Linked DNA regions of Homo sapiens: regions 2, 3 and 4 are each linked to region 1. Evidence: fine-mapped expression QTL. A gene starts in region 1. Each other region holds a variant in brackets. All regions are shown on one strand. Distances are from middle to middle. Region 1 holds the start of SYNE3 (spectrin repeat containing nuclear envelope family member 3). Region 2 overlaps SYNE3 (spectrin repeat containing nuclear envelope family member 3). Region 3 overlaps SYNE3 (spectrin repeat containing nuclear envelope family member 3). Region 4 overlaps SYNE3 (spectrin repeat containing nuclear envelope family member 3).

Evidence for each region.
Region 2: its variant is fine-mapped to the expression of SYNE3 in cerebellar hemisphere (GTEx, PIP above 0.99).
Region 3: its variant is fine-mapped to the expression of SYNE3 in whole blood (TOPMed, PIP above 0.99).
Region 4: its variant is fine-mapped to the expression of SYNE3 in whole blood (TOPMed, PIP above 0.99).

The regions. Positions count from the first base shown.
Region 1 is chr14:95,511,618-95,519,756 of GRCh38, forward strand. It overlaps SYNE3 (spectrin repeat containing nuclear envelope family member 3), which reads right to left and starts at 5,033. Exons shown (of 18, transcript NM_152592.6): 1 at 4,979-5,033. It overlaps SYNE3-AS1 (SYNE3 antisense RNA 1), which reads left to right and starts at 4,503. Exons shown (of 2, transcript NR_188030.1): 1 at 4,503-4,603; 2 at 5,387-6,294. RefSeq lists silencers at 4,435-4,729, 4,479-5,288 and an enhancer at 6,713-6,862.
Region 2 is chr14:95,487,433-95,495,571 of GRCh38, forward strand. All of the region lies in intron 1 of SYNE3 (spectrin repeat containing nuclear envelope family member 3), which reads right to left. Among named protein-coding and RNA genes, the nearest start is that of SYNE3-AS1, 25 kb to the right of the region's middle. RefSeq lists an enhancer at 7,804-8,139. The variant T/G (reference allele first, on the strand shown) is at 3,925.
Region 3 is chr14:95,413,879-95,422,003 of GRCh38, forward strand. SYNE3 (spectrin repeat containing nuclear envelope family member 3) reads right to left here. Exons shown (of 18, transcript NM_152592.6): 18 at 1-4,148. The coding sequence ends at 3,948. Among named protein-coding and RNA genes, the nearest start is that of LINC02292, 88 kb to the left of the region's middle. The variant T/C (reference allele first, on the strand shown) is at 3,249.
Region 4 is chr14:95,432,295-95,440,294 of GRCh38, forward strand. SYNE3 (spectrin repeat containing nuclear envelope family member 3) reads right to left here. Exons shown (of 18, transcript NM_152592.6): 12 at 7,620-7,781; 13 at 7,318-7,490; 14 at 6,739-6,868; 15 at 4,526-4,687; 16 at 966-1,115. Among named protein-coding and RNA genes, the nearest start is that of SYNE3-AS1, 80 kb to the right of the region's middle. RefSeq lists an enhancer at 6,263-7,462. The variant G/C (reference allele first, on the strand shown) is at 4,952.

The sequences.
Region 1 (8,139 bases):
GGCAGGAGAACTGCTTGAACCCGGGAGGCAGAGGTTACGGTGAGCTGAGATCACACCACTGCACTCCAGCCTGGGAGACAGAGCAAGACTCCTTCTCAAAAAATAAATAAATAAATAAATTAAATAAAATAAATAAAATGATCCTATCAGTTTAATCTCAGGTATACTTCCCGTCTCTCTCCCTGAGTGCCCTAAGGAGGAGCCTTGTGACCCAAGACTCTCACTGGTCTGTCTGTCGGGTGGTGTCTGCATGAGAGTCACACAGCTGTGGCAGCCTGGAGAGAAGTGTATTCCCTACGTGTGTGACCTCGGCCAGGACACTTCGTTTTGTTATAAAACCAGTAGATTGGTCCAGGTGACCTGAGGTTCCTTCCAGCTCAAATATTTCAGGATTTTATGATTCAGAAGCATAAATCATTAGGCCAGGACCTTTAAAAATCCTGTTGATCATCTGAGGTCATAGAGTGTTATTATTATCTTACTTGTTGTATGATTTGGGAAGACAGAGATCATGTCTCCTACATTAAAGATCGTGTCTCCTACATAAAGATTTATGACACATAAAATCATGTGTCATACAACAGAATTTTTTGCTTTATTTTTTAAATCCAGCCAGATTAACATTGGAATCTGAGGAGAGAGGCAGATTTTCTAAGAAAGCATCTGAAAATGCTCCACATGATCTTTTAATTTCATTTGTATTATGTAAGATTATATATATATAATGGAATATATGCGCCTCCTATTTGTAAATAATGAAGCATAAAAATATTTAAAAATAACGCCCTTAGCCAGGCATGGTGGCACATGCCTGTAATCCCAGCTACTCAGGAGGCTGAGGCAGAACAATGGCTTGAACCTGGGAGGTGGAGGTTGCTGTGAGCTGAGATTGTGCCACTGCACTCCAGCCTGGGCAACAGAGTGAGACTCTGTCTCAAAAAAATAAATAAATAGGCTGGGCACGGTGGCTCATGCCTGTAATCCTAGCACTTTGGGAGGCTGAGGTGGGCAGATCACGAGGTCAGGAGATCAAGACCATCCTGGCTAACACGATGAAACCCCGTCTCTACTAAAAAAAAAAATACAAAAAATTAGCCGGACGTGGTGGTGGGCGCCTGTAGTCCCAGCTACTCGGGAGGCTGAGGCAGGAGAATGGCGTAAACCCGGCAGGTGGAGCTTGCAGTGATCCGAGATCAGGCCACTGCACTCCAGCCTGGGTGACAGAGCAAGACTCTGTCTCAAAAAATAAATAAATACATACATAAAATAAATAAAAAATAACACTCACAAGCCTACCACTGGACTGAAGAAACAGAACATAATGGATCCCACTGAGAGTGAAACAGACATCTCCCTGATCAATTACCCACTTCTCCCCAAAGATAATCACCTTGATTTTGCATTATCATTCCCTTGCCTTTTTCTTTTTTAAACCAGCTTAACTTTGTGAAATAGAATCTACGTATAAAGGCATGTATAAAACATACATGTAATTAGCCAGTAACTACAAAGTGATCTCCTTTGTAACTGCCCCCCCGACTCTCCTGATCCTCTCTCACCTTTCCTCAGCACGCGTGGTAATGCTTGGCTTTTATTTAAGCTAATCACCTTCTTGCTTTTTGTCGTCATTTTACTTCTCAGCTATGTGTCACTAAACAACTCATTGCTTAGTTTGGTTGTGTTTTGAGCTTTTATAATTGCCTTAGCAGTTCTCCATGGAGATGCTAGGATTCTCTATACCACGTCTGCAGCCTAGAAACCCAGGCGAGAGATCCAGGCTGCACTCTGGTGTTACAATGATAGTAGAGGGTTAGTAATAATAAAAACCATCAGTCCTATTTATGGTGTGCCCGCACCATGCCGGGCATTCTGCTAAAGCATCATCCCCAGTTACCTCAATTATCTTCGCAGCAACCCCAAAAGGGAAGTATTTCAAGAGGTCAAAATTAGGGCATCAGCTTCCCAAACTTGTCCCCCGTCCACTTCCTAGCTTCCTAGCTGCTCAGCCCCAGAACATCATCCCTAAGTCCTAAAGCAAAGGTTCCTTTCAGGATGGGAGGGTCAGGAAACACTGCTGCTCCTGGGTTCCTATCTTTGTGGTCCAGTCAGGCTGCTTAGATTATATATATATATATATATATATATATATATATATTCAGAATCCATATTCTTTTCCAGCAAGTACTGATGACTTAATGAAGACAAGCATCCTGTCCGGTCAGTACTGTTTTCCCAGTGATGAACGTACAACTTTGTCCTTGGATTGTCTAAGATAGGCCATGTGGTGCCAGGAAGAGCATCAGGTCAAAAGCCCTTAGTTCTAATCCTGGCTGTACCACATCCAGCCGCTGGATATCAGCCTTCTCATCTGTAAATGGGCAAGCAATGACAGCCTTGCCTACTACCAGATCCTAGGAGGTGAGAGGCAGGAAGAGCTTTGGAAGACCCCACGAACACATTTGAGTCCCTCTGTAGGCTTCTCTAGAACCCTTCAGAGTTGAAAGGGGTGACCAGGAACCTGGGAAAGAGTCCCAGGGCAGCCCAGGGTTGGAGCTTCAGGGCCAAAGTGGTTAACTGAAAATATTCATTATCACCCCGCCCAGGCTGGAGTCCCCTGGCTTCCAGTTTTGAAGCAGAGGTCAGCTAGGCGGTGTAGGACACTGCTCCTGGGTTGACCAATGGGCCACATCAATGGGTCAGCTGTTTGGGGTCAAGAGCCTCCTGCCCTCCCTGGGGCCAAGGGCCAGCTTTCAGTGCTGGGAGGACCATGAGGGGGGTGAGCCAGGACTACCCACCATTGACAGACAAGGGGAAATCAAGGCAGGGAGAAGAGGGGCAGAGGCAGAGCAGAGGGGAACCCAGGTATCCCGACGAGGCCCCTTCGCCTCAAACTGTGACACCTTCTCACATGTGCTGTGTCTGACACCATACAAAATGCTGATCAGGGCAAAGCTCGTTTAGTGCTCATGAGGCCCTGCGAGGCAACACCTGCCGTGCTATGGTTAGCCCCTTTCCACGGGGAAGGACGCTGAAGCTCTGAAAGGTGAAGCAACTTTCCCAAGGCTACACAGCCAGGAACGGGCTAAGGCAGGACTGGACTCAGGCAATCCAACTTGACTGCCCCATTCCTAACAGCTGGACAATGCGGGAAGCCTAGCTGCCCAGTGGGTTCCCAAAGGCTCCAGGGTGCTTTTGACGTTGAGCTGGGCCTGCCCAGTCTTGCCTCCCGGGGCCGCCAAGCCAGGGCCCCCCGGCAGCCCGCTCCAGGCTGCATCACAAGGCAAAGGGGCTGCCCAGGCATGGCCAGGTCCATGGCTGCTGGAGAGCATGCAAAGCACCCGAGCAGGAGCCTTGTTCCCATGGAGACAGACAGAAAGGACTCCAACTCACTCTGAAGTGTACCTGCAGGGAGCCAGGTGCCAGACTGTACCTGGAGGCAGAAACCTGAGCCTGGATTCTCACCACTTCCCTCTGTGCCACCAACACATCCTCAGGCCTTCTTCTCAGGACCCCCAGCAAGACACGAGTTCCAGAAATAAGACATCCCAGCCCACTTCCCGCTCAGCCACCCCCAGAGGGGCCTCTCTGGTTGAAAACAACGCCTGGGGCCAGCAGGCTTGGCACAGCTGTGGCTGTCAGCCTGCCGAGCACCGTCCGGCCTGAGGAATGTGCAGACCCACATGTGCTGGAGCATCCCGCTGGGGCACAGTGACAGGAAACTGAGCAAAACAGCTCGTTGGCACTGATATGCCCCTCCCACCTCCCAGCTCCTGACTCCTATGGGCTGTTGGCTGCCCTGGAAGTGCAGGCGGCAAGCCCAGGCCCTTCAAGAGAGCCAGGCAGTGTGGCTCTGGGCAAATCACTCCCCCTCTCTGGGCCTGTTTCTGCTTCTCTTGGTGGATGAAGGACGCTGTCCTGCCAAGCTCAGAATGGCAGTGATTTTATGACATGCTCTCCTTTCTGGGAGGACGGTCCATTCTCCTCATGCCCTCATTCATGTGGGATGGGGCATGCCCCCAAGACACATCAAGCTATCCCACTAGCAGCCCTTGGCTGTAGAAAGCCCCCCCACCCAGTGCAGGGATAAGGGTGACCCTTCAGAGTTGAAAGGGGTGACCAGGAACCTGGGAGAGTCCCAGGAAAGCCCAGGGTTGGAGCTTCAGGGCCAAAGTGGTTAACTGAAAATATTCATTATCACCCCGCCCAGGCTGGAGGCCCCTGGCTTCCAGTTTTGAAGCAGAGGTCAGCTGGGCGGTGTAGGACACTGCTCCCGGGTTGACCAATGGGCCACATCAATGGGTCTGCTGTTTGGGGTCAAGATCCCAAGACCCCAGGGGAAGTCAACATCCATCTGAGGCTCTCTCAGGCCCTGCAAGCCATCTCTGGCCTCACTGCCCTCCCCTTTAGAAATGTGGGAATGAGGCTCAGAGAGGTTGAGCTGCTTGCCAAGTTTGCATAGCCAAAAGGCGTCTGAACGAAACTGAGCATTCGGGGTTGGACTTCCCCTCTTCGCCGCCTGCTCTGCTCTCCCAGGCACTACTGAGCGCGCTCGCGGTCGCCAGGAGCGGATTGGGCCCCCGCCGCGCGCAAGCCTTGGTGACAGGTCAGCCCGCCCCTAGGGGAGGCAGAGGGAAGCCCCGAGGAGGCACCCGGCCCGCTGGGGCGCGCTGCCCGGGGCTTTAGGGCTTTTTCTTGTGGGCCGGCCGAAGCTCCCCGGGGTTGAAAGGAAAGGCTCGGGAATTTCGCAGCCAGCACAGAACGGTTGGATTTAAACTAAAAATACCCGCCCGCCCGCAGCTGTCACGCCGGGGCCCCCGCCCCCGCGCCGGGCGCGCCTCCCCAGGTCCCCCAGACTTTCGGCGCCCCCGATTCCCGGGGCTGTGTCAGAGCTGGGCCAGGGGCTGAGGACCCCACCCGCCCGGCCCCCGGCCCCCGGCCCCCGGCCCCAGGCCTGGCCTCCCGGCCCCGTGCCACTTACCCTCCCGGAGCGTGGAGGAGCGCGGCGCCGCGGGTAGCTGGGGCCGAGCCTCCTTCCCTCCTCCCTGCGTCCCGGGCGGCTCCGGGGCGGGGCAGGGCTGGGGCGGGCCCGGACACCGCGAGTACCCCCGCCCCCGCCGGGACCCGCCCGGTGGCCCCGCGGGAGAGGCCGCGCCCCTCTCCGCACGCGCTCAGCGGAGGCCCCGGGTGCGCAACCCCAGCCCGGCGGACATCCTGCGTGGCCCCGGGGACCAGGGCCGAAGAAAAGCCTCACCGCTCCCTGTCGCGGACCCGGGGCGGGGGTTAAGGGGGGGGTCCTGTCCACGCTTGCCTGGAAAGCAGCCCGGAGCCCTGGCCCCTGTCTGTCTCCCCGACACACACACAGCCACCCACCCTCTTCTCATCCTAGGGGATGGCGCGGAGCTGCCTCTCCGGGAAAGTTGGATCTGTGCGCCCAGACATGGAAAAGGGATTAGGACACCGGCAGATCTTGCCCTCACAGAGCGGAGGTGGGGGCCTTGGAAGGGGCACACCGCCCGTAGGCGCGAAATCCAAGAAGAAAATGACACTCATCAGCCAGCCTCGCGCGGGGAGAAAGGGCGGGGTGGGGGGTAGTGGCACCCTGCCCGTCCTCTCCCACCCCCACAGTCCGGGCCCACAGTCCAGGAGTCACAAGGGATGTGAATCCCCAGGCATAATGTGAACCCCCAACAAACCCAAGGCCTCAGAATGCGCCTCACCTCTCCCTCCCCACCAGCAGAAACATCCTCCCACTCTCCCAACCCCTGCTCCAGCCACGCCAACCCTTTAACCTTGTCCCAGAATGTCTAAACTGTATCTGCCTCTGTGCCTGTGCACATGAAGTTGCCTTGGCCCGGCGTTTGCTCCACAGCCTTCTGCCAAACTCCTACTGCTTGATGGCTGGAAGCCTTCGCACCCTGGCGCTCTCCTCCCAGGTCAGCAGTCACTGGCCTTCCTGTGCATCCAGCCCAGCTTTGAACAGTCCTGGGCCCCAACCCTTATCTTTTTCCGAGTAATTACATGGTTGCATGATTGGCTTCACCGCCTCTGGATCAGATGAGCGCTACTAATGAAGGATACAAGTTGTAAAACTAGGTTTTATGTGAACTCCAGTCATCACAGTTTAGGTGCGGCTAGCGATTTTACAGATGCGGGGTTAGTAACTGGCCCAAATCCAGGGCTTCCGGGATGCTGTTTTCCTTTTTTGTTTCTTAGCAGGGATGGCAGATGTTTGTAGAACAGATCCGTGTAAAAGTCAGTATCCTAAGAGATTAAATTGTAAAGCAGGACAAGATAGTTAACGGTGTGTGTGTGTGTGTGTGTGTGTGTGTGTGTGTGTGTATGTCTTTTCCAAATTGAGAGGGAGGTAGAAGAATTAGCCAAAACCCAGGATTCACTCTGAGGTAGACCCACACCTCTTAGTTAGATCCCATTTATTAAGCTGTAATTATTCACAGCGTTGCTGAAGATATACACAGGGCCCCTCCCATCTCCCTGCGACTGACTGGTTCCAAGTATGCTATTATATGTGTTATTATCACTGTGGCTCAATTAGAAGTGCTGCCGAAGGCCTTGAGGTTGCCACAGTCAAACTGCAGGTGCAGGCAGCGAGTAACAATGATTATAATGCCTGCATCTGGATCGCGCTTTTTGCTTTTCAGAATGCTTTCAAATGTGTCTCCTCATTAAATCTCTGCAAACATCCTCCAGGTAGTTAGGAAAAGTTTAATGAGTTTTGCCTGACAAGGGAAACCAAGACACAAAGAGGGCAGGTGACTTGCACAAGGAGAGAGATGGCTCCCCCAGGCTGCTCCAAGGGTGGAGCTGGCCACTGTAACTCAATGTCCTGCAGGAAGAGATGGTTGGGTACAGTTAGGAGCTCAGGCTCTAGTGCCAAAGTGCCCAATTTGCAACTTTCAGCTGATTACTCATACTTGGTTTCCTTTTCTGTTGAATAGATCTAATAATAGGAGCTTATCTTGTATGGTTTTGTGCCTGGTATTTGAGCACCCAACTCAGGCGAGCTGTTATGTTATGGTTCTGGGAATGGTATGATTGCTACAGTTTCTGCCATACAGCTATTCAGTCTTTCGTCAAACATTCCTGAGTATCTACTATGTGCTAGTCTCTGGGAATATGAAGAAGAATGAGGCATAGACTACTACCTCCAAGGAGGTCAGGGTGTAATAATTCTGTGTCAGGGGACCATGGTGCACAGAGATGAACTGTCCCTCCTGCTGCCGGTGCAGTGCAGAGCACCAGTTCAGAGCAGTGGAGATATTCACTTTCCAGGCCCAGCTTTGCTACTTATTTAGCTGAGTGAATCTTACACTGTAAGATTCTGTTACACATACAGTGTGCACATACAGTCTAATCTTACACTGAATGTGACCTCTTACAACATTGGTTTTTCTCATCTGTTAGATGGGGATAGCAATAATTTTTCATAGGTGAAAACACATGTGATAAACATATTTTATAAAGTACAAAATACTGTGCAGATAGTTTTGTTATTATCAATGTGATTGTTATTATCTTGGGCTTTACAGGGCTTGCTGCTTTTCAGAATACTCTCCCATTCCATTGCTTTTCTTAGAGTCTCGCTCTGTCACCCAGGTTGGAGTGCAGTGGTGCAATCTTGACTCACTGCAACCTCCTCTCAGATTCAAGCAACTCTTGTGCCTCGGCCACTTGAATAGCTGGGTCTACAGGCACACACCACCACACCCAGCTAATTTTTTGTATTTTTAGTAGCGACAGCATTTCACCATGTTGGCCAGGCTGGTCTCGAACTCCTGACCTCAAGATATCTGCCTGCTTGGCCTCCCAAAGTGCTGGAATTACAGGTGTGAGCCACCATGCCCGGCCATCCATTACTTTTCTTAAGCCTGACATAAACATCACATCAAAAACAGAACCCTATTTTTTATTTGATGCCAATCTTTTTCTCTCCAAAGTAGTCCACATGGAAGGAAAACAAAAGTTGAGTAAGCAATGCGAAGGGATGGGGCAGTTTACAACTAGGAAGTCCACAATACCTTCGTCTTCAGCATTACCTGCAGCTACATAAGGGGGTGGACATGAAAACCCATCTGGAAAAAAAAATCTGGCAAAGGATTGGGGGAAGAGCCCCTTTGTCAT
Region 2 (8,139 bases), 24 kb before region 1:
TTTCACTGTCCGTGTTGCTGGCACGAACCACAGGAGCTCCCTGAGGAGGGGTTTGTCATGTTCATCTTCCTGACTGATCGGCTGGAGATTGGAGCTGCCATTATTTTAAACCACCTTCTTGGGGGTATAATTGGTAAATAAGACACTTCACATATTTCAGCTGCACAGTTTGATAAGTTTTAGATATACACCTATAAAGCCAACACCCGTCCATAAAATGAACATACCCGCCTCCCCTTTAAGCTCCCTGGCTGGTTTTGTAATTCCCACCTCCCACCTACACCCTCTCCCAGCCACCACTGATCTGCTGACTGTCGTTGTAGATTTGTTTGCATTTCCTAGAGTTTTGTACATGAATGGAATGGGATGACACAGAAAATACAGGTGACCCCTGAACAACACAGATTTGAACTGTGTGGGTCCCCTCATACACAGATGTCTTCTGCCCCTGCCACCCTCGAGACAGCAAGACCAACCCCTCCTCTTCCTCCTCCTCCTCCTCCTCAGCCTACTCAACATCAGGACGATAAGGATGAAGAACTTTATGATGACCCACTTCCACTTCATAAACAGTAAATACATTTTCTCTTTCTTATGATTTTCTTAATATCATTTTCTTTTCTCTAGCTTACTTTATTGTAAGAATATAGTATGTAATATATACAACATACAAAGTATGTATTAATCAACTTTATGTTATCAGTAAGGCTTCCAGTCAACAGTAGCTATTAGCAGTTAAGTTTTGGGGGATTCAAAAGTTAGACTTAAATTTTCAAGTGTGCAAGGGCCTGGTACCCCTAACCCCTGCAATGTGCAAGGGTCAACTGTACTCTTTTTAGAGAGAGGGGTCTGATTTTTTCACTCAGGATGGTTATTTTGAGATTCATCCATGTCGTTGCCTGTATCAGTGGTTTGTTCCTTTTTGTTACTGAGTACTATTCCATAGCATTCCTGTGCCACAGATTGTGGATTCATGCACCCACGGATGGATAGTTTCCAACAAAGCTGTGATGAATACTTGTGTGTGCACATATGCTTTCATTTCTCTTGTGTAAATACCTAGGAGTGGAATGGCTGGATCACATGGTAGGTGTATATTTAAGAAACTGCCAAGGCCAGGCGTGGTGGCTCACACCTGTGATCCCAGCACTCTGGGAGGCCAAGGTGAGAGGATCACTTGAGCCCAGGAGTTTGAGATGAGCCTGGGCAACACATGGAGATCCTGTTTCATAAAAGAGGGGTGGGGTGGGGAGGGAAGGGGAAGGGAGGAGAGGAGAGGAGAGGAGAGGAGAGGAGAGGAGAGGAGAGGAGAGGAGAGGAGGGACTGCAAAACTGTTTTCCAAAGTGGCTGCACCTCTTTACATACCCAGCAGCCATGTGTGAATTCCAATTCCTGCACGGCCTTGACAACACTGTACGGTCAGTCTTTTCATCTTAGCCCTTCTGGTAGCATGTCATGCTGGCTCACTGTGGCTTGCATTTCTCACTGGTTTTGGCATTTGTGGTGTAGGACGGCCTAACTGAGCTCCCAGACTCTGTGCTGAGCACTTCCCAGGGATCTCCTCCTTGAAAGCTCCTTGGTGTGCTGAGCACCGGGCCTGCTGGCTGATGGCTAAGGGGGTGAGCAGCTGAGTGACTGAGTGACAAAGACACTTGGCCAACAGGGACCTGCTCCAATTCTCAGGGTGCTGCCAGCCAACTCCCTGCAGGCAACTCTCTGAGGACAGAACCAAGCACCATGAAGCAACAGCCAAAGCCAGTAAAAGCAGAAGACAAATGGAGTCACCCACAGGTGCATGGGGCTTTCTGAGCTCCCCAGCAGCACATCCATGGGGCCTCTCTCCCATCTCCTACAGGTCCCAGACAGATTCCTGTGTAGGGCCTGGAATTTCTGAACAACTCATGCAGCTGCCAGGGGTTCTCCTGGAATAAGGATTGAAAATCAACAACTTTTGAGTTCAGGGACCTGAATCCAGTCCAACTCCTCTGAACTCTGAGCCTTTTGTTCTCATTTGAACATAAACTGCCTCTGGGCACAGCCCTTGCCTATTTTGATCACAACACGTGGCACTTACTGACACACAGTAAGTGCTCACACACATTTGTGAATGAAAGATACATCTGGAAAATATAAACTACAATACCTACCTCGGTTGGTGCTTAGTAGGTACTCAGAAAGTGTTCTTTTATTTGATTATTTTTAGAGACAGGGTCTTGCTATGTTGCCCAGGCTGGTCTCAAACTTTCTAGGCCCAAGATTTCTGCCTCAGCCTCCCAAGTAGCTGGGACTACAGTCACGAGCCACCATGCCTGGCTTATTTTTTTTTGAAAAGAAAGAAGTGTGGAGCCAGGATGGACATCTCTCTGCCCTCATTAGTCCTTGATTTCACATGCTGCTGGCTCAGGGGAACTGAGAAAGGCAGGAATCAGAGGCAAGAGTGGGCCTCAGCACAGACTCTGTAACCCCAAAATAAGAGGCTTCCTTCAGGCCACGAGTGGGGGCAGAACAGGCTCTGGAATGGGGTTAGGAGTCATGGTTCCAGCGTGGGCTCCACCGCCAACTTGCTCCCAAACCCCAGTTTCCTCAATGGTCAGAGTGGAGCAATAGTTCACACCTGACTTCCACCCACTCTGAGACGAGTGAGCTTTAAGTTGGAAGGTTGTTGTGAAGGACAAGGCAACGTCCGATTCACCTTGGGGCTTTTTCTAACGGAATCAGTTAGTAAGGGAAATACACGCTGCTGAGAGGCCCTGCCCTATCCCAATGTAAAGGACTATCACCGTCATCTCTTGTTCTGGCAAGCTAAAGGCTAATTATACCATATTTCCATGTTATAACGCATAATAGCCATGGGCTATAACCGATTATGGCATGCACAGCAGTCTGGAGTAAATGCTATATTGTTCCAAGCTATAATTCCAACCTGTAACAGCTGGAGACCTTGGCAGGAGCTAGCTCTGTGCCCAGCTATTTTCTACAGCACCATACAGGGCTTCAGAAGCAAACATCCTATCAGGTAGATGCCATGGCCAGCCCTTTATTACAGATAGGAAACAAGGCACAGAGATATTAAATAACTTTCCCAAAAGCATGCAGAGCCAAGATTGAACTTCAGGCAGGCCAGCTGCAGAGGCTTCCTGTTACCCTGAACTATACTGAGCTTGTAGACAAGTGTCCAGCAAGCCCCTGGTCAGCATGCTGAGGCTGGCTGCAGAGCCAAAGGTGTAAGTCAAGTAAGAGCTGCTGCTGGTTGGTGGGTGAAAGAGCTATGAAGAGTTCCCCATGGTGGCCTGACTCCACAGCTCAACCTGACACTCTTCAGATATGGCCCAGGGCAAGTGTTCACCACATGGGCCAGGCCTGTGGCCCTATCGGCAAAGCCATGCATTGCCATCCACCTTCTCACACCTGCAGGCTGTGGCACGCAGTACCAGCCAGCATGCCCCACTCAGCTCTGCATCATCCGTTGATATGTCTACCTTCCCATTAGAATGTCCCGCTCAAGGGCAGAGGCTATGTCTCATCCCCTCTGTATCCTCAGGCCTGGGACACAGCTGGCACAGAGGAGGAGGGCAGTGCTGCTTATTCAATAAATACACACAACATCAACTTCTTGGAAAGGCAGGACTGGCTGTTCTTGGGGCCAGGTCAGGGTAGGGAGTTGCTGGAACTGCCCCCAGATTTTAGGCTGGCTCTAGATCTCGGGTTGCGGGGTAAGCCTCACGGGATGACAGGACATTCCAGTGAGCCAATGAAAGATTCTGTGGAAACCTCCCTGCAGGTAACATGTGACAGTTGGACTTGTCCTTCGGAATTCTCTTATCTAGCTGTGCCGTTTTATGGATGAGGAGACTTAGTGAAGGAAGTAGACCCGCCCAAGATCTGGCAGCAGCTCAGTGTAGAGTGATGGCCAAGACCTATCT[T/G]GTGCCTCTGAGAAGGATCATTCTATTTCTTCAAAATGACTCACAGAGAAAGAAACAATCAACCCTTGTATTTACAGACAGTTAATTTTCAACAAGGGTGCCAAGACAATTCAATGGAAAAGGATAATCTTTTCAACAGTGGTGATGGGACAACTGGATATCCACATGAAAAAGAATGAGATTAGACTCTTACATCACACCGTATACTAAAATTAACTCCAAATAGATCAAAGACCTACACGTAAGAGCCAAAGCTACAAAACTCTGAAGAAGAAAACATACGCATCAATCTTCCTGACCTTGGAATACGCAATGGTTTCTTAGATGTGATAGCAAAGGCACAGCAACAAAATAAAAAAATAGATAAATTAGGCATCATCAAAATTAAAACTTTTGTACTTCAAAGGCAAAAATGTTAAAAAAAAAAAAAAAAGTGACACCATCAAGAAAGTGAAAAGATGTCCCACAGAATGGAACAAAATTTTTGCAAATCACATATCCGATAAGGGACTTACATCTAGAAAATCCAAAGAACTCTTAAAACTCAATAATAAACAGACAACCCAATTATAAAATAGGCAAATGATTTGAATAGACATTTCTTTAAATCATACCTACATCTAAGATGGCCAATGAGCACACTGAGAAGCCCAGAAAGCACAGAAAAGATTCTCAACATCACTAGCCATCAGGGAAATGCAAATTAAAACCAAAATGGGATACTAATTCACACCCATTAGAATAGCTATAATCAAAGGAAGATAATAACCAGTGTTGGTGAAGATGTAGGGAAGTTGGAACCCTTATATGCTGCTGGTAGAAACAGAAAATGGTGCAGTGACTTTGGAAAACAGCCTGGTAGTTCTTCAAATATTAAACATAGAGCTTCCATCAGATCCAGCAATTCTACTCTTACATATATACTCAAGAGAAATGAAAACATATGTCCACACAAAAACTTGTGCACAAATGTTCATGATAGCCAAAAAAAGTGGGAGCAACCCAAATGTCCATCAACTGATAAATGGATAAGGAAATCGTGGTCTATCCATACAATGGAATATTATTCACCTGTGAAAAAGAATGAAGTGCTGACATATGCCACAATATAGAGAAACCTTGGAAACGTTGTGCTAAATGAAAGAAGCCAGTCACAAAGGTCCCATGTATTGTATGATTTCATTGATGTGAAATGTGTAGAACAGGCAAATTTACAGAGGCAGAAAGTAGATTAGTGGTTTCCTAGGGCTAGGGAGGTGGGAGGGTTGGGAGTTGACTGTGAAGGAGTGCAGGGGTTCTGTTGGAGGTAGTAAGAATATTCTAAAAATGATTGTGGTGACGGCTGTACAGCTCTGTGAATATACTAAGAGGCATTGAGGGTAGGCGAGGTGGCTCATGCCTGTAATCCCTACACTTTGGGAGGCCGAGGTGGGAGGACTGCTTGAGGCCAGGAGTTTGAGACCACCCTGGCCAACACAGTAAGAACCTGGCTCTATTTTTTTTTAAAGCACTGAATTGTACACTTTAAATGGGTGAATTGTATATTATATGAATTATATCTCAATAAAGCTGTTTTTTAAAACATCAGCATCCCAAAACTAGGAGGGCCATTAAAACTGACCTAATCTAATCAACCATCTCTGCTTGAATTTCCTTAAAAATACACCCACCAAAGGCTGCCAAGATTCTTGAACACCTTCAGTGATGGGTGGCTCACTGCCTTCTTCAGGCAGCCTATTCTGTTGTTACATAGCTCAGGCTCAAAGGAAGTTTTTCCTTCCAGGAAGCTAAAACCTGTACCTTATAAATGGGGTGCCAATGTAAAGGAAGCTAAGAAGCTGCTTGAGACCTTTTTTTCCAAATGGAGAACAGTACGTTCCATTTACTGAGCAGGTATTAGGTGCTAGTCAATATGCCCCTCCCTCTCCAAGCATTTATTAATGCACTTGCTTTTTAAGACAACTTTAATGGTTGGTATAATCATCCCCGTATCAGAGATAAGGAAACTGAGGCTCAGAGAGGTGAGATAACTTGAGTATAAAATTTCAGAACTGGTTTTGCCCAGGAGGCAGAGCTGGAATTTGAACCTAGGTGTATTGAACTCCGGAGCTGCAGCTGTCCCAGCTGCTGAGCCAGACTGCTTCTGAGAGCCTGACACCATTTCAGCATCCCTATGGGTCTTATAGACCTTATATAAATGACATGAAATTTTTGAATCAAACAACAGAACAAACAGAAAAAAACTCTGCCTCCCAAAAGAGATGCTGAATGCAGCCCCATGGGATGGGCAAAATGCCTGCCTGGGAGAAGAGGGGTGGCCACCAGTGGCTGCATCGCTGTGGGAAGCCAGCCGCCACGGACAGCCTTAGAGGAAAATAAAGCTGAGTGATGCCCTCAGGGGCATACAAATAGCCTTGAGCGCCAGGGTTCTCAACCCAACAGCCCATCATTTGGTGTTTGGAATTCCGGTGAGGAATAAACTCCCCCTGTGAAAGCTACTCAATCCAATTCAATAGCATTTGTTGAGATAATTTTTTTTTAATTTTATACTTGAAAGGTAGGTCTTAATATTCATTCCTGTTTTATAGATGAGAATACTGAAGCTGAGCAGTTTCATGGCCTGCCCAAGATTCCAGAGATAGTAGCTGGGAGGCGAGAATTCAAATCTAACACCATTTAGCCAGGTGTGGTGGTGCCTGCCTGCAATCCCAGCTACTCAGGAGGCTGAGGTAGAAGGAGTTTGAAGCCAGCCTGGGCAACAAAGTGAGACCCCTGACTCTTAAAAAAAAGAAAAAAAAAAGACCATTTGACTTCCACATCCAGATGTGCCTGGCGCGGTGCCACTAGGGCCTATAGGTTTCAAGCTCGGGTTCTCCAGATCACAAGCTCTAAATGAGAGTGCTATGGGTGTTAAATGCAGAGGCACAGAGCCTAGAGAAAGGAGCAATGATTCTTATGAAGATTCCAGGAGAGGCTCATAGAGGAAGGGATACCCTGGCTGGGATGTGAAGGATGAGCAGGGTCTGAATAAGATGAGAAGTGGGAAAGGGCATAACGAGTGGATGGACTGGCGAGACCAAAAGCTGGGAGATGGGGAAGTGCAAGGCCAAGTTCAGGCTGCAGGATGGGTTTGGCAATTGTTAACAAAGAGAGACGGGAGGAGGCCATACTGGAGAGCAGGCTGAGGGGACTGAACAGCACAGGATTCCAAAGGGTTGTGTGGGTTTTACTCTGTGGGCAATAGGGAGCCAGTGAGGGTTTGTGAGCAAGAGAGTGGCACAGCCTACTCAGTGACAGGACCCACAAGCAGTCAGGGCAGCATCTGCTCAATGGTGTGAAAACCACACTGGACCAAGCAGGGCCCTTGCAACAGGGCACCTTAAGTCACATGCTAGGAAATGCCTTGTAAGGTGCCGTTTAACCCTAAGGCATCCTATTTATTGTAAACCTGCTCTTCAAAAAAAAGGCCATGGGTGCTGGGCGCCGTGGCTCATGCCTGTAATCCCAGCACTTTGGGAGGCTGAGGTGTGTGGATCGCCTGAGGTCAGGCGTTCGAGCCAGCCTGGCCAGCATGGTGAAACCCCGTCTCTACTAAAAATACAAAAATCAGTTGGGCGTGGTGGCAGGCACCTGTAATCCCAGCTATTCAGGAAGCTGAGGCAGGAGAATCGCTTGAACCTGGGAGGCGGAGGTTGCAGTGAGCCGAGATCATGCCATTGCACTCCAGCCTGGGCAACAGAGCGAGACTCAGTCTCAAAAAAAAAAAGAAAGAAAAGAAAAGAAAGAAAAAAAAGGCCATGGGTTCAGATAGAAGGGTCTTTTCTCAAGAACTGATTAAGCTTGCCAATGTCTAATGAACTGTGAGAGCAGCCTCCATTCCTTCCAAGAGTGTCTGTGCCCAGTCTGTCCTTACAGTCCTTTTCCCAGCAAAATGCCCAGCCGGGCCCACCTTGGACAATGCTGTTTGACAGTTAAGGAGTCTCCTGCCTGCTGCTACCCTGTCTCCTGCTCTGGGTTCATCTGCGACCCTATGATTGTCCTGGTAGGTGTCAAGGTTATCACTGGGTCTTGATCTTAGGGTGCCAAAGGAGACTCCTGTTGGTTGGGTAAAATGTTATCAAATGCTACTCACAATGGCAATAGTTCCCATGGGTGAGGCCTGCTGTGTGCCAGGCACTGGGCAGACACCATGAAGGCCCCCATCAACCTTCAAAT
Region 3 (8,125 bases), 98 kb before region 1:
CTGTGCTGGGCATTGGGGGTGTGGAGTTCTGTCATTCATGACCGAGGACCTCATCATGAGACATTAGAGGGGCTCATCTTCCAGGTGAGCAATGTGAAGATAATGATAGATGGCCCAAGGGAATGTGCTGCTGGTGGTGACTCATCTCAGAGCTGAGGGCAGTCCCTCAGGGAAACATTTGGATGCTCCGCTCTGGCCATGTCCCAGGCGAGCTGATGGGCAGAGAGTTCTGCCTGCTTGCCCAGGGAACTCCATTCCCAGAGGCTACAGAGACTGCAACCTGGTAGAACCAGCCTGAAGCCCCCCTCCAGCCTGGGCTTTGGGGTCCTCATTGCCCCATGTTGTGGGTTTGGACCCACTTCAGCATGAGCAAGGGTCTTTATATCTTTAAGCCTCAGGGTTCCATCTCAAACATGGGGGTAAAACAGTATCAAACCCTGGGGGCAGGTGTCGATGTGGGAATTACATAAAGCAAGGCTGCAAAGTGCCGCCCAAGGGGCTCAAGCACCCACGAGCACCAAACGAGCACATTCTTTGTCTCCCTTGTCGGTGTTCCCTCTGTCCCGCCACCACTGGGCACCTCCCAGGGTCTCCTCGCCTCGTCTGCTGTCAGTACCTGCCCATCCCTCCCGCTCCCAGCTTTTCTTTTTAAACACCCTCTGGGTGCTGCATGTGCCTTTCCACATGCAGAGAACGGGCTAAGAAAGAAAGGGGTGGGAGGGACAGGTAAGCAGGGATAACTAATTCATCAACCGACCCACTGGTGGTCCTTTCTCCCTCCTCTCCTTCCCTCCTCTCTCTCTCTCTGACACACACACACACACACACACACACACACACACACACACACACACGCCACAGCGCCACCTTTCTCAAGTAGCACCTTAAAGCTCTGCATGGCTGTTAAAGAGGCTGGAAACTAAAGTCATAAGAATAATTGCCTGGCTCTCCTTTAAGCAAAGGAGATTGCACTTGTGCTTGGAAGCACCAGTAACTGGGCTGTTACGTTATATTACAAGTATATTTATATGAAAATACTGAAAATATCAATTCTTTTTTAAAAAACAGTTATGCAAACAAACAGACTTGATGGCATCATTATCAAAATTTAAAAAATATAGGTAGATATTCCCACCCCCGCCCGCATGTTCCAGCTTCTCCTTCCCCAACATGTGGTATATGTGACAGGCTGCATACATGCCCAGTGGCTGTTTTTTTCATGTAGTTGCTGACATGAGCGGATCATACCACAATGAGCAGGGTACCACCTGAGGGCCATGGTGGCCAGTTGGGCTCTGGCCTTGCTGCCTCTCACTGTGTGGCCATGGATCAGTTTCTTCCCCATTCTGGGCCTCAGCTTTCTCACCTGTGACATAGGAAAGTGGACACCTGGCAAGGCCCCCCCACCCACCCACCCTGCCACTGCTCTGACTTCCAGGACTGGACATCTGGGCTTGGCTGCCTGGGCTCACTCAGCTCCTGATTTTCCAGTAAGGTGGTCGCCTGCAGAGAACGGCCCTATGGCTTGGTTTCCAGATATCTGGAGAAAAGTGTGCTTTCTCTTCTTCCATGAAATCACAAATTTCTCTAGATATTTGGAAACCAAGTCACAGGGTTGTAGGATCTACTTTTTGAACTTTTCATCCCCTGTAGTTGCCAATTCTGCATGTACTAGTCTTGTAGAAATAAGTTAAACTGAAGCAGCTTGAGGGAAGGAACTTGATGGAAGGATGGAGAGTCTACAGGGCTTGTTTTCCAAAGAAAAGTGTTGTTTGGAGGAGCATAATTATAAGCCTACAGCTTATCATAAAGCTATTCAAAAAAAAAAAAAAATGGCCAGGCATGGTGGCTCATGCCTGTAATCCCAGTGCTTTGGGACGCTGAGGTGGGCGGATCACCTGAGGTCAGGAGTTCGAGACCAGCCTGGCCAACATGGTAAAACCCTAACTCTACTAAAAATACAAAAATTAGCTGGGCATGGTGGCAGATGCCTGTAATCCCAGCTATTTGGGAGGCTGAAGCAGGAGAATCGCTTGAATCTGGGAGGCGGAGGTTGCAGTGAGCCGAGATCGCACCACTGCACTCCAGCCTGGGCAAAAAGAGCGAAACTCCATCTCAAAATAATTATAATAACAATAATAATAATAACTCAGAGCCAGGCTTGTGGATGGAAATATAGTGCCCAAGTCACATTCTGCTTAAAGTTGTAACAAATACAGACGAGTTAAAAGAAAAAAAAAAGTACGCTTTCTGAGTCAGCCCCAAGGGCTCTCCTTGGCAGCACGGGTTTCCTGCCGGTGAAATGTCCTAGTTGCCTAGGACCCGGGTCCCCAAGGGCAGAGCTCACAGTGAAAGGCAAAGGGTCAGTGTGTGTGAGACAGCAATGGTGCTGGGTATCAGGCCCTCTTAGGTCCTCAGTTTCCCCTCTACTTAAAGGGCCTTTCTGGGTCTATAATACCTTATGATTCCAAAGCCGGACAGAAGGTCCGAGGAAATCCCCTCGTATTTGTAGTTGAACAGACAAAATCCATTTGTAGAGAGTGGGCATTAAGTACTTTTTTAAAGGGGAAAATTTAGTGTTGATTTAGGAAAAACATGATCCAGTTGTAGAGCACTTAGGAACCATCCCAGAGTTCCCTGGCAAGGAAGGGATGAGTTTCTGGCCTCGGGAACTCACATGGAGTCACCGCGGCCCCAGCCCAGGTGGTGCATGGAGCCCAGCTCGCCTACACCTGGCTGGAGAGGGCCTGGTTTTGGGTGGCCTGGGCCCTAGTCCCATATGGGGATGCACATGAGACCTTCTTGGCCCCATAGACCTGCTGTCTCCAGAGTCTTTTCTGGGAAGCGGAAGGAGAGCCCTTGAGACAGGCTGAACTCCAAAGCAGATTCTCTCACCTCTGTCCTGGACCCTCGATCCCTGGCCCCTGGCGTGGCAGATGCTTCCCTTCTCACCTGCAGCTCGAGCTCTCGACGATGAAAACTCAGTCCAGGAGCAACAGAGGAAACACATCTTTCCTGGGCACTGCCAGTGGGTGCTGCCCACCGAGTGTGCCTCACCATTCTGCATGGAAATCTTAAAAATCAAGCTTGTCTTCTTCCCTTTCTCCCTGAATGAAACACACAGAGCAGGATCTCACCGTTTCATGGGGGCTCGGTGTCATCACCAGGGACAGTCCTCATAGGTCTGTGTGATCAGAAGCCGCTGAGAGCTGGGGTTAGGGCTCCGGCATGCAATGCCTCCACACAGC[T/C]GTGCTTTCTTAGTTCGGGGATCTGCTCTCTGCAGCTCTTCTTTTTCTCCCTCGATATCACTCTGTCACTTGTCACTGCTATCATTGAACCTGCCTCTGGTCATTGCCATTTCTACTTCTGACACGTGGCAGCTACTCTTTGTGGTTGTTAAAACTAGACAAGCATACTTGTTCTCATTACGCATAAAGCAAGAGTCGCTGGGCACCAAGTGAGGGTCTATGGCGCTCTTCCACGTTGCAGCTCAGAGGCCTTTCATTACATCTGAATTCTGGGATTCGCTTTGGAGAAGAGGTTGCCATGAAAGTGACATGTTATTGTTCTTGCTTTCTAGGGTTGACTGCAGACCAAGTCAACAATACCACAAAATCCCATTGGAGGGAGCCATTGCTAGGAATTTTCCCAACTCCAAATAGAACTCGTATATGAAATTATACATACTGAGCATTTACATACAGATCATATAAAAATTCTAGACATTATTCCCTAGTCACATGTAGTACACATTTAGTATAAATAGACTAAGACAACACTGTATAAAAAGTAAGTGTCTTCTGGGAACGCTGACACAGCACTGATATGGATGCAGCTCTGCAGTCTTTGCCCTGCCCCTGTTTCCAGTTTCCCTGGCGAGCATCCTCAGGAGGGGCCCTGGGACTGATGGAGGTTGGAGGAGAAAGTCACCTGTGTGCCCCAGTGGGTTAGGTGGGTGGTGGGCCATTGTAGCGCAGCATGAGCGTGAAGGAGCGGGCGAAGTTGTTGGCCAGGGTGCAGCTGCGGTCCTCTTCCCTGATTGGGAGCAGGAACAGCAGGAGGAGGAACAGCAGCAGAAGCAGCTGCAGTGGGAGCGCCACACAGCACGCCCTCCGGAAGAGGGAGCCCAGTCCTCGCCACCGCCGAGTCTGCGGAACCAACACAGCACAGGTGAGTGGGCTGGGGGGCTCTGGTGGTGGGGGGCAGGTTCAGGGGGCGAGGAGGATGCCAGGAGCGGTGGTAGCACTGAACTGACTGTATGACAGTACACATCTCCAGGTTCTCATCTGTGAAACAGGGCTAATGTAAGTTTTAACAGAAACAGGGTTTCTGCAGTTTTCCCAAAGCATTCAAGGCATGAAAGGAAGAATAGAAAACACAGTTGCAGGCTCTGCCATTGTGACATATATCTTTGCCTGGTGTAGCAGAGTGCTGGCTGTGAATCCTAAGGTCACTTGACTTCTCTGAATCTCTAGTTTCTCATCTTCAGATGGGGCAATAATGGCACCTACATGACAGAATTGTCATGAGGATCCAATGAGGCAGAGCCTGGCACATAGTAAGTATGTACCAGCTGCTGTCATGATTAGTATGCATCCTTAATATTTCACCATCTAAATCTTCGTCATCACCATCATCACCAGCATCAAATTTATCATCGTCACTTTCTTCCTCCTCTTGTCTTTCTTCCCTTTCCTCTTTTTCCTCCCCCTCTTCCTTTTCTTTCTTTCTTTTTTTTCCTTTGAGATGGAGTCTCGCTCTGTCGCCCAGGCTGGAGTTCAGTGGTGTGATCTCAGCTCACTGCACCCTCCACCTCCCAGGTTCAATCAATTATCTCCCTCAGCCTCCCGGGTAGCTGGGATTACAGGCACCTGCCACCATGCCCAGCTAATTGTTTTGTATTTTTAGTAGAGATGGGGTTTCACCATGTTGGCCATGCTGGTCTTGAATCCTGACCTCGTGATCCACCCTCCTTGGCCTCCCAAAGTGCTGGGATTATAGGTGTGAGCCACCGCGCCTGGCCCCTCTCTTCTTTTCCTCCCTCTTTCCTTCCCTCTTCTCCCTCTCTTCCTCCTCCTCCTTTTATTTCATCATCAATTTCATCACCATCACTATTGCCATCAGTATCACATGAAGGTTAGTCTCACAAGTCCAAATGCCTAATGGACTTCTCTGCTACAATGTCCCTGAAAGTGGCCAAGAAAACATTTCCTAAGTTCTGGAGGGACTGGCCAGGTTGTGGCTTCATGGATGTCTGACTGCCAAGGAGTGCAGGGGCAAGAGCTGGTCACTCAGAAGAGTGAGGCCCTCATGGTCAAGATGCTGCAGAGTGCAGGACGAGCCCAGCTTTTAGGATCCTAGCAGACTGGGTCCCCACCCAGACTCTGTTACTCAACAGCTATGTGACCTTGGGCAAATCAATATTGGATCCTCTGTTATCTGCTCTGCAAAATGGGGATCAAACACCTACCCCTATTTGCTGGGCTGTGGTGAGGGCTCAAAGCAAAGGTATATATATACCTTGATTGATAAATGTACCAGTTCTTACTATTAGTACTATTAATACTTATTTATAATAATAGTGCTAGCACTATTAGTAACTGTTAGTGACATTCATCACTATTAATATTAGTAATCATAGCACTAGTACTATTATTATAGAATATATCTGCTGGCTCCCTAAAGAACCAAGGTTCACCCTCCAGGGCACCAAAAGCCACAGTCCCGTGATGATGATAGTGATAGTGACCATGGCGATGGAGGTGATGGCAATGATGGCAGTGATGCTTGATGATGGTGGTGATGCGATAATGATCATGACGCTAATGGTGGTGGGGTGGGGGTGGGGTGGTGAGAGTAAGGTGGTGATGATGGTGATAATGATCATGGAAATGGTGATAATGGTGATGATCATGGTGACTGTGATGGTGATGGTAAGTGTGAGTGATAGAGATGATGATGGTGATGGTGATGATGGTGATGGAGGTGATGGTGATGGTGATGATGATGATAGTGATGGTGGTGGTGGTAGTGATGGTGAGGGTGATGATGGTGATGAAGAAGCACTGTTAAATGTAAATGTTCCTGGGAGGTTCTAACCTGGGCAGTTCTGTCTCTCTACCTCTCCTCTCTGAGTCAACTCATGTATTCCCCTGCTCCAAGTATCCCCTCCAGATGATAACGCTTAACCCTGTGCCTCCAGTCTCAAATGTGTTCACTCACCAAAGTCTTTAGACACTGATTTTATAAAACAGGCTGATTATAACCATGAATAAGTACTCTTGGCTGCATGTATTTCAGCAGTGACTTCGGGAGTGGAGGGTGGGGGTGGGTGACACATTGTTTAAGCGGCTGAATGAGTGTGAGTTCACAGAGAAGGTGGTTCTTCCCATAGCTGCTGGGTTGGGTGGGGCCAAATCTCTGACCCATGAGACCCACCCAGGGAGAGAGAAAAGGGGCAAGACAATGAGCTGGAGGGCCACCCAGCCTGGGTTTCCACTGCAACTAACAACCTGTAATTAAGGTTCTCCCAAATGGAGGGTCTGCTTACAAGTGTCCTTTTTTATTTGCCCCTTCATTCTCAGAGTTAACACTTTGCTTATTCAAGAGAGGGGCTGTGCCTTGGCCATGATCCTCTGGGGAAAATGTCTTTGAAGGTCCAAAAAGTGTTTATACATACAAGTGTTGACAAGGGATGGTCTTCTCAAAGGATTCCTGCTGCCTGCCCAGTGCCTGTTTACTTAGACCTCACGTCCTCACTTAGAGGGCCCTGGATTCCAAAATGCTCTTAAAAATAAGACACCTTTCAATATGTTTCCCAAATGCTTAGGAAAACACACACACACACACATACACACACACACAGACACACACATACACACAACCTTCTAAGAAGCCAACAAGAAAAATGACAATCTTGGCTCTTCCAAAGAGAGAAGGGGCTTCCTCAGGAAGTTATAAGCTCCCTATCTGGTATGGTTTGGTTGTGTCCCCACCCAAATCTCATCTTGAATTATAGTTCCTATAATTCCCATGTGTTATGGGAGGGACCCAGTGGGAGATAATTGAATCATGGGGGCAGTTTCCCTCATACTGTTCTCATGGTAGTGAATAAGTCTCGCAAGATCTGATGGTTTTATAAGGGGTTTCCCCTTTCACTTGGCTCCCATTCTCTCTTGTCTGCTGCCATGTAAGATGTGCCTTTCTTCTTCTGCCATAATTGTGAGGCCTCCCCAGCCACGTGGAACTGTGAGTTCATTAAACCTCTTTTTCTTTATAAATTACCCAGTCTCGGGTATGTCTTTATCAGCAGCATGAAAACGGACTAATACATCATCCCTGAAGGTAGGGAAGCAGGGGTTGATGAGCCCATGGGGGTGGGGAGGGAGTATATGTTGTGTAGAGGAGTTAACATACCCAACAGAGGCTCTGACCAAGAGTCCTCCAAGGTCTTACATGATGAATCTGAGACTCCAGATTTCTGGGGATCGCAGGCTAGAGTTCATCACAGTCCATGAGACCTAATCTTCTACCATTGGTGAAAGGGGATGTGGGGGAAATATAAGGTTTGGAGTCTTGGGTTCTAACCCTGACTCTACCACGTCCTAGATGTGTGATCTAGGGCATGTCACTTAGCCTCTCAGAGCCTCAGTTTCTTCTCTGTTGGGAGAGAGTGATACTTGCCTACCAATGTAGGAAGGATAAATGAGGCCACGCATGCTATGCATAAAGTGCACAGTAGGCACCCAATAAAGGCTCACTTCCTTTCTCCTCTGGCTGATGGGTGTGGGGCAGAGAGGCAGCTCCTGCAAGCCCCACAAGCTTCCCCTCTGCCAGGGATGCAGGGATTAGGCACCATCATCACCTCCAGTCCCATCAGGGAAGAAAGCACTGCCCTCCTTAAACGCTATCTCTCAGCTCCTTAAAGACCCTCACGTCCTATCGCCACAGGGCCTTTGCACAGGCTGTCCCGTGTGTCTGGAATGCTCATTGCCCTTCTTTCTCCACTCCACCTGGTTAGCGCTGACTGATCACTCTAATCTCACCCTGAGTCACTTCCTCCAGGAGACCCTCCCTGGCCTTACACATCCTCAGGGCACCCTTTCTTCTGGATCACTGATTAAGA
Region 4 (8,000 bases), 79 kb before region 1:
ACACACTTCAGGCCCAGCTGGGATTCTGTCTGGAAAGGCCGTGGCCAAGGCCGGCGGGGGCCATGGCCAACCTGGCTTGGGCTGGGCTGACACCTAGTGGCCGTCTCGGCTGCTCCCGGGCCAGGAAAGCCTGGGGCGCCCAGCTTGGGGCTGGGGTCTGAGGCTGAAAGGGCCCTTAAGGGCCAGCTCACCACCCTCCTCAGACTTAGGGACCTAGGAAACTTAATGTCCGTGCCTCAGTTTCCTCATTGGTTCACAGGGCATATAACAGCACCTCCTTTAAAGGGCTGTTATAAGGACATAGCATTGAGCAAAGGTTATGATCATTACTAGTTTTGCTATTATTATTATTATTATTATTATTATTATTATTATTATTATTATTTGGTGTGAGGAGACACAGGGGCCCCCGAAAAGGAAGGTGCTTGCTCAACTAAGACACAGGGCAAGTTAGAGACATGGGGCTGGACCCCAGGGCTCCTGATGCCACTCCAGTGCTTCCCCAGGTCACGCCTACAACACACGGGTGTGTCTGCAGGCTGGCTCTGCCACTGACCACCCACGCGGCCTCGGGCAAGGTTTTTCACTGCTTGGAGTCTCAGCTCCCCTCTGCAGTCTGGAGATACAATGACTTGAGCAGAGGGGAACCGTACAGACTGAATGGGACGGTGCACACAGGGCCCTCGGCTTGGGAGATAGGAAGCACTCCTTACACATTAATTATGAGGTCACTGCTGTCCTGACTGGGACTTCAGCCTCATGAGGTGGTTGGATGGCCAAATGGCGTCACCTAAGTGCCCAGAACCCATGAGTGTCCCTGTCCTCTGCCTGAGTGGTCACCACTGTCTGGTGTGTGAATGCACAGGGCAGGGTGGATGCAGGCTTAGCACTGTATCCCCAGGCAAATACGGCCCAGCTATAGTCCTGTCCCTGGAATCTGGGACCTGCACATCCTTGGCACCTACCAGCAGGTGGCCAGAGTCCTTCAGCTTGGACTTGTACAGCATCCACTGGTAGCGCAGATCTTCCAGCTCATCCGAGGTCCCCCTTGCTGGCCCGAGACGAAGGAGGTTCTCAAAGAGATGCTGACCTTCTGGCACCCGAGCCTCCAGCTCCTGGGGGAAACAGCAGCGTCATGGTGCGGCTTCCAAATGGCCCAGACAGCCCCACCTGAATGGTAAGGATGGGTCCATCAAATTTCACTTGACAGACAGGTAGGCAGGGAGGAGGCAGACAGAATCCATAAAGTGGGACTCCCATCTGTGCAATTCAAGCCAAGGCCTAGCCCTTGCTCTCAGGAATGCTACAGGATGGCCTCCTGCATGGAACGGGCAGCTGGGCTGCAGACCTCCAGTGGTCACTTCCAAATATGACATTCCAGGACCAAGTCCTCCAGAGGGCTTGACTAGAGTTCGCATCATTCTAAAAGCTGTCATTGTGAACATGTCTTTCTGTTAGCATTTTGAGCCTGGCAGAATGGTGTTTTAATGTGCAGATTTTTCTCAGGAAATAGAAGTACTGTGTTCCCTTGGGATGGAAACTTTTATTCTCAGGACTCCTGAGAGGTGGTGTGATGGGGCAGTAGGAGCGGGGCTATAAATCCGGGAGCCCAGTTTTAAATCCTGGCTTTGGATCCTGGCTCTGCCCCATTCTACTAGCATGTAATATGGGACACCTTGCTTAGCTTCTCAGAGCCCACAGGAATGTATGCTGTACAAAAAGCAAGGGGGTTTAACTTGAGGAACGGAAAGTCATTTCTGATATGGCTGGAGTTGGGTGGTGGTGCGGTGGGGGGAATGAGAGGAGTAGCCAGATATGAGACAGGAGAGGCAGGCAAGGAAGATTTCCAGGTAATGGCCAACTAGATAATTGGGACCAAACCTCCCACTAAGGACAAAATATTTAAAGCATTTTAAAGGCATAAAAGTATTAACAAAAGAATGTGAGGCACACCGGGCCACAACTTGGGAAAGAATGAAAACCCAGGGCAGTCAGTGCTGTGTTCAGATCTGCTTTTGCCCACAGAACATTTGCCAATTTGGAAGGAATAGCTGTAAAACATCTTTGCTTTTGGCAGCCTCACTGGGCTGGGGAGACAAAGGCCAAAGTCTGGGGCCTGCAGAGGTAGAGATTCTGATAGGGTTCATTCACCCTTTTGCTGAGCTCCTAAAGCCTTCACCCTATTAAAAATGAACCAGAAGTAAACCTGGACCTTGTGTAGACTTGCAGCCCAGTTCAAAGTCATCTTAGTAGACCAGGGAAACTCAAGCCTTGAACTTGGATTTAGTGGTCCCAGAATGAAAGGTCCCTACTCGCCTGGCAGTAGCAAATAAAATCAACTCTGGAGGAAAAGATTATCCTAAATCTTTTTTTTCTTTTTGAGACAGAGTTTCGCTCTTGTTGCCCAGGCTGGAGTGCAATGGCGCGATCTCGGCTCACCGCAACCTCTGCCTCCCAGGTTCAAGCAATTCTCCTGCCTTAGCCTCCCGAATAGCTGGGATTACAGGCATGCACCACCATGCCCAGCTAATTTTGTATTTTCAGTAGAAACGTGGTTTCTCCATGTTGAGGCTGGTCTCGAACTCCTGACCTCAGGTGATCCACCCGCCTCAGCCTCCCAAAGTGCGGGGATTACAGGCGTGAGCCACCGTGCCCTGCCTATCCTAAATCTTAAATCCCTCTTATACATATTTTGGCAAACACAATGTCTAGCACACAAAGCAGCCACATGAAGACACAAGAAACCAAGAGTAAGAACAGGCAGAAATAATATACAACAGAAACATTCATAAAATGCCTTGAGATGTTAGAATTATTAGATACAATCTGTAAAAAGCTATGTTTACTATGTTCAAATAATTAAAAGATAGGTTTAAAAATTTCAGCAAGTATCTGGAAGGTATGAAAAATGATAGAGTTTCAGTTAAGACAGGAGCTATAAAATAAGAAAAAAAAAAGATAAGAAAAATGATAGAGTAGATTATTAAAAGCACCAAATAGAAGTTCTAGAACTGATAACTGCAACAACCAAAGTTAAGAACTCAGTAGACACGTGTAACAGAAGATGAAACACAGCTAAAGAGAGAATTAGTAAACTGAAAGATGAATCAGAAAAACTATCCAGAATGCAAAACGAAGAGAGAAAAGGATGAAAAATACACAGGAGAGAGTAAGAGACATAAAGCACACAGTGAGAAGTAGTTACATATGTTTAAATGATATCACAGTAGGAGAGGAGAAAGGGAACAAGGCAGAGGTGATATTTTAAGAAAGATTGTTAGTAGAAAAAAATACAAGTAACAAGTTTGGGAATTAAGAGAAAAAAAAATAAGGTTAGAGAGTTTTCCAGAAAGATCCTAGACCACAGATTCGGGAGTTAAAATGAATCCCAACCCAGATAAATAAAAAGAAATTCAAACCTAAACATATCATGGTAAGATTGCATAAAAATAGGGAAACAGAAGTGAGCTAGGGCCTGGTTGAGAATGGCCTTGAATAATAAACTCAGGGGTTAAACTCTATAGTGAAAGGTTTTCATTAGGGGGAGGACAGGGTCATATTTGTTATTCTGGCTGCAGGATGAGCCATGACCTAGATGGGACCCAACAGGAAGAAAGGAGGATCAGCTGGGAGGCTACAGCCATAGTCAAGGCCAAAAATGGTAAGTGCCTAAATTAAGACAATGGTAGTGCGAGGGAAGAGAAACACAAAATATCTAGGAGGTGGAATCAAGGAGCTTTAGCAACTGATTAGATGTGGGAGTGAAGAAGACAGGAGAGAAGTAGTAGTTCAGTTGCAAAAATGGCTGTGACTTTCCCCATCTCCCTCCCCCCAGCCATATCCATACCCACTGCAATATGACTTTGCCATCCCTTCCATCAAGTAGTGGAGTCTCTTTCCCTTTCCTTGACTCTAGGCTGGTTTTGGCAAACAGAATGCAGGGGAATTAATGTTATGCTGGCTCCTAGTCTTGACCTCAAAAGTCCTTGCCTGCTGCTATTGCTCTTTTCTGCCCTGCCTCTGCTATGAGAAGTCCAAGCTGTGCCACAGGAGTATACGAGATGTGTAGTCCATGTCATTCTCATCTCTAATAGCCCACCAGCCCCTAGAAGTAGAGACACCCAACTGACCTACAACTGACAGCAGACGGACTGGAGGCACTGCCCGGTTGAGTTCAGCCTAACCTGCCATGCTTCTGAACCATGGGTTAAATACATAGTTATTGTTATCAGCCACAAACTGTTGGGATGGTGTGTCACACAGCAATAGCTAAGTGACAGGAGTCAAGTGATTAGTGGTGATATTTTCCAAGTAGGGAACTACATAAGCATGCTGAACACACGAATGAATGCCAGAAAAAGTTCTAAAATCTTTGAACCAAAAAAGTTTAAAAGCGATTATCTATACACAAGGGAGAACAGCTCACAAACTGTGGGTGTGTTCCTTCTTTTGAAGAACTCCCTGGTGGCAAATGCCTCTGTGGGTGCAAACCTTATGGATGAGGGACCTTTCCTGGGGAACAGACCTGCAGCTTCGATTTTCTGGTCCTCAAGTCCTCAGCTGTAGAAGTTCTCATTGCGATGATTCTAACCAGCTTGGAGTTTTCCACCTGCAACCACTGCCCAAAGTTCCTCAGGAGCTGGGAGAAATCTTCATGGCTCCCTTCTTCTTCCTGTAGAAGATTTGCCTGTAGGATCACACACGGCCAAAGCGTCAGAGGTGAAAGAGCCCCCCTGGCCATGTGTCCTGGGAATTCCACCTGAGGCAGAGGGGCAGGGACCAGGACAAGATGCCCAAAATGGCGACGGGAGAGGCCTGGGGGATGAACAATGAATCTCTACTCAACATGGTCACATTTAAGGGCCAAGAACATTCCTCACTGTCCCCTTTCTGGTCCCCTGAGAGGTGACGGAAGCCACCACCATCTCTTACCAGGATGGCTATACAAATA[G/C]TCACCCTTCCACCATGCTTGCCCCCTCGGGGCTCCATGACCGGAGTGCTCTGTCTATGATGCAAGCCCATTCAGCTAACTTCTTGGTTATCCACATTGGTGCCTCTCACTACTCCCCAGTGTGACCCGGGAGTCTTGGTTCCACTGCGCATGCTGTCTTCCCTGTCCTCTGAGCCTGGGCCTGCAGATGTGTCTTGGCCCCTCAAACTGGCACTCGAATTTCTCCCTCTGCTCTTCACACATACTGTCTCCTCTGTGGGGAACACACCTCTCTCCCTCCTCTCCTCACTGCCACTCAGCCGTGAAAATTCAGCTGAGATGTCTTATCTTCCAGGAGAGGCTTCCCGGTCCTGGACCTAGGAACTGCTGCAGGCTCCCATAGCCTCTGGCCTGTCTGCCAAGGTGCACCATGTTTTTTTTGTTTGTTTGTTTTTTGTTTTTTGTAAATCCTTATTTAACAGCCTGTGGATGCCACTCCCTTGCTTCTTTCTTTTCAACAAAGCTCAGTTTGTTTAAAGGCAGTAAGGGAAAGTGATGGGTAAAACAATGTAGTTAGTTCTTTTTTTTTTCTTTTATAAAATATAGTCATGGCACAAAAATAGACCCATCTTGTATGATTTTAGTTTCCATTCTGGGGCCAGCAGGAAGTGTTCGGCCCCGATGCTCTCTCCCTTGCAGGTGCTACTGCTAGTGGCTCACAGAGGTGAGTATCTCCCGGGCCCAGCAGCATGGGCCTATCCCGAGAGCTTGTTAGAAATGCAGAATCGAATTGTGGGCCCTAGCCAGATCTACTAACTCAGAGTCTGCATTTTATCTTATTTCATTATTTTTTGTTGATTGATTGATTGATTGAAATGGGGTCTTGCTTTGTCACCAGGCTGGAGTGCAGTGGCACAATCACAGCTCCCTGCAGCCTCAAACTCCTGGGCTCAAGTGATCCTCCCACCTCAGGCCCCTGAGTAGCTGGAACTACAGGAGCACACCACCATGTCCAGTTAATTTTTAAATATTTTTTATAGAAATGGGGTCTTGCTATCTTGCCCAGGCTTGTCTCAAACTCCTGACCTCAAGCAATCCTCCTGCCTTGGCCTCCCAGCCTCCCAAAGTTCTGAGATTGTAGGTGTAGCTCACCATACCCAGCCCAGAACCTGCATTTTAATACAAGGCTGTGTGCCCACTGAAAAGCTCTATGCCGGATTCCAAATTCTCTGAGGGTCAGAAGCGTTACTCACGGCTGTATCCTAGCTCTGAGCACAGTTCTTGGAACAAAGTAGCACTCAGCAAATGGAGGAGTGGATGAAAGAATGAATGGGAAAATGAATAATTTGATGTATTTGAATAACAAGGAATAACTTTCTTTTCCACAAAGCTCAAGTTTGTTTAGAGGCAGTAAGGGATGGATGAAACATGGCAGAAAAGTTTTCCCATCTTGTATGGTTTCGGTTTCCAATCTGGGGCCAGCAGGAAGCTTTCAGCCCCGACACTCTCTTCCCTGCAGGAGCTGCTGCTAGTGGCTCACAGAGGTGAGTATCTGACTGGCTAAGGGATACCCCTACTGCCCTGGTGGCCTGGCTCTGCAGACTCTGGGATCTCTGAGGTCCTCTGTGGAGTAGGATCAAATGCTCTTTGGCCACAGCTGGGGCAGGCTCAAATGAGACAGGACGTGGCCAAGTCCTCAGAGCAGAGCATGTTGCCCCAGACAGGGAGGGGCCTGTGCTGGAGACCCCTACCCACCTCTTGACCTGGGGCCTGGCCCCTTCTCCCACAGCCCTGCTAGACAGACTCACGCGTCGACGATGCCTGGGAATAGGATCCATGGGATTGATGAGAAATCCTGACTTTGGGATGTTGTTGGTGAAAACCATTTTCTTCCCCGAATCCACTTCCATCCTCTGCAGATGCCAGTTTCTGATGAGGCTGAGAAGACAAACTCAGCCCAGTCAATGCAGAGATGTGGTGGGGACCCACCAGGACATGGGAAAAGTAATAGAATTGGGGAACCACGGGTCACGAGTCAGTGCCCCCCACTGAAGTTTGTGAGAATGTTCCTGAGGCATGCTCACATCCGGTTTCTGACTTTAAACTCAGAGTAACCTGTCATGAACGTGCGTACGCCCATAGATGCAGATGGGGAAACTGAGGCTCAAGCCAGTATAGACTGGAGGCTAACTCCCAAGACGGGGACATTTCCTGGCTCCTCCTGCTCCTGCTAGAATAGCCAACTGGGCCAAAGTGTGAAGGTGCCCACGGCCCCTGGCTCCACACTGGGCAGCACCCTGGCCCTCTGCTCCACGAGCACCTGAGTGTCCCTGAGTGAGAAGGGGCAGTGTCCCAGACAACGCTCAGAGCCTAGGAGGCACTCTCACCTCAGCAGACTTTCTTCCAGCAGCCTCAAGGCCCGCCACGACTCTGCCAGCTCCCTGAGCTCCTCCTGCACCACGGCAGCACCCTCCGGAGAAGACTTCTCCATCACCAGCCAGCCCTGCGCTTCCACCAGGGACAGCTGGGCCTCCTTCTCCGGGAATTCTGCCACCAGCCTCTAAAGGACACACGGACACACAGACACACACACGGTGAGGGTGGAGGGAGGTTTCTGCTCCTTGGTGTGGGAACGTTGGCCTGTCAAGGCTGCTTCTTTGGGAAGTGGGTGAGGGAACCACCGCCTTACCTCAAACTCGGCCTCTTGGGACTCGGCATCCCCCGGGCCCGCCTCTCCCCGGTGTGCCTCCAGCTTTTGCGTGGTCACAACGATCCACTGCCGCAGCTCCAGCAGCTGGTGGCTGAAGGTGCAGTGCTCCTGCACACTCTGCCGACACCTGTCCACAAGGTCCTGCAGCACAGCCCGGGGAGCCCAGGGCATCCTGAGTGCTGGCCGAGGGGGAGACCCCCGCACCACCCCCACCCTGCAGGGCTCTCACACCCGCTGGGGACCCCAGGGCTCCCCACCAAGTAGCACCACAAGAGGCTGGGCTGGCCCTTCCCTCCACACAGCACAAGGAATTTACCCTTGGAAGATCAAATCTGGTTTAAAGCCTATCTTACTTTTAGG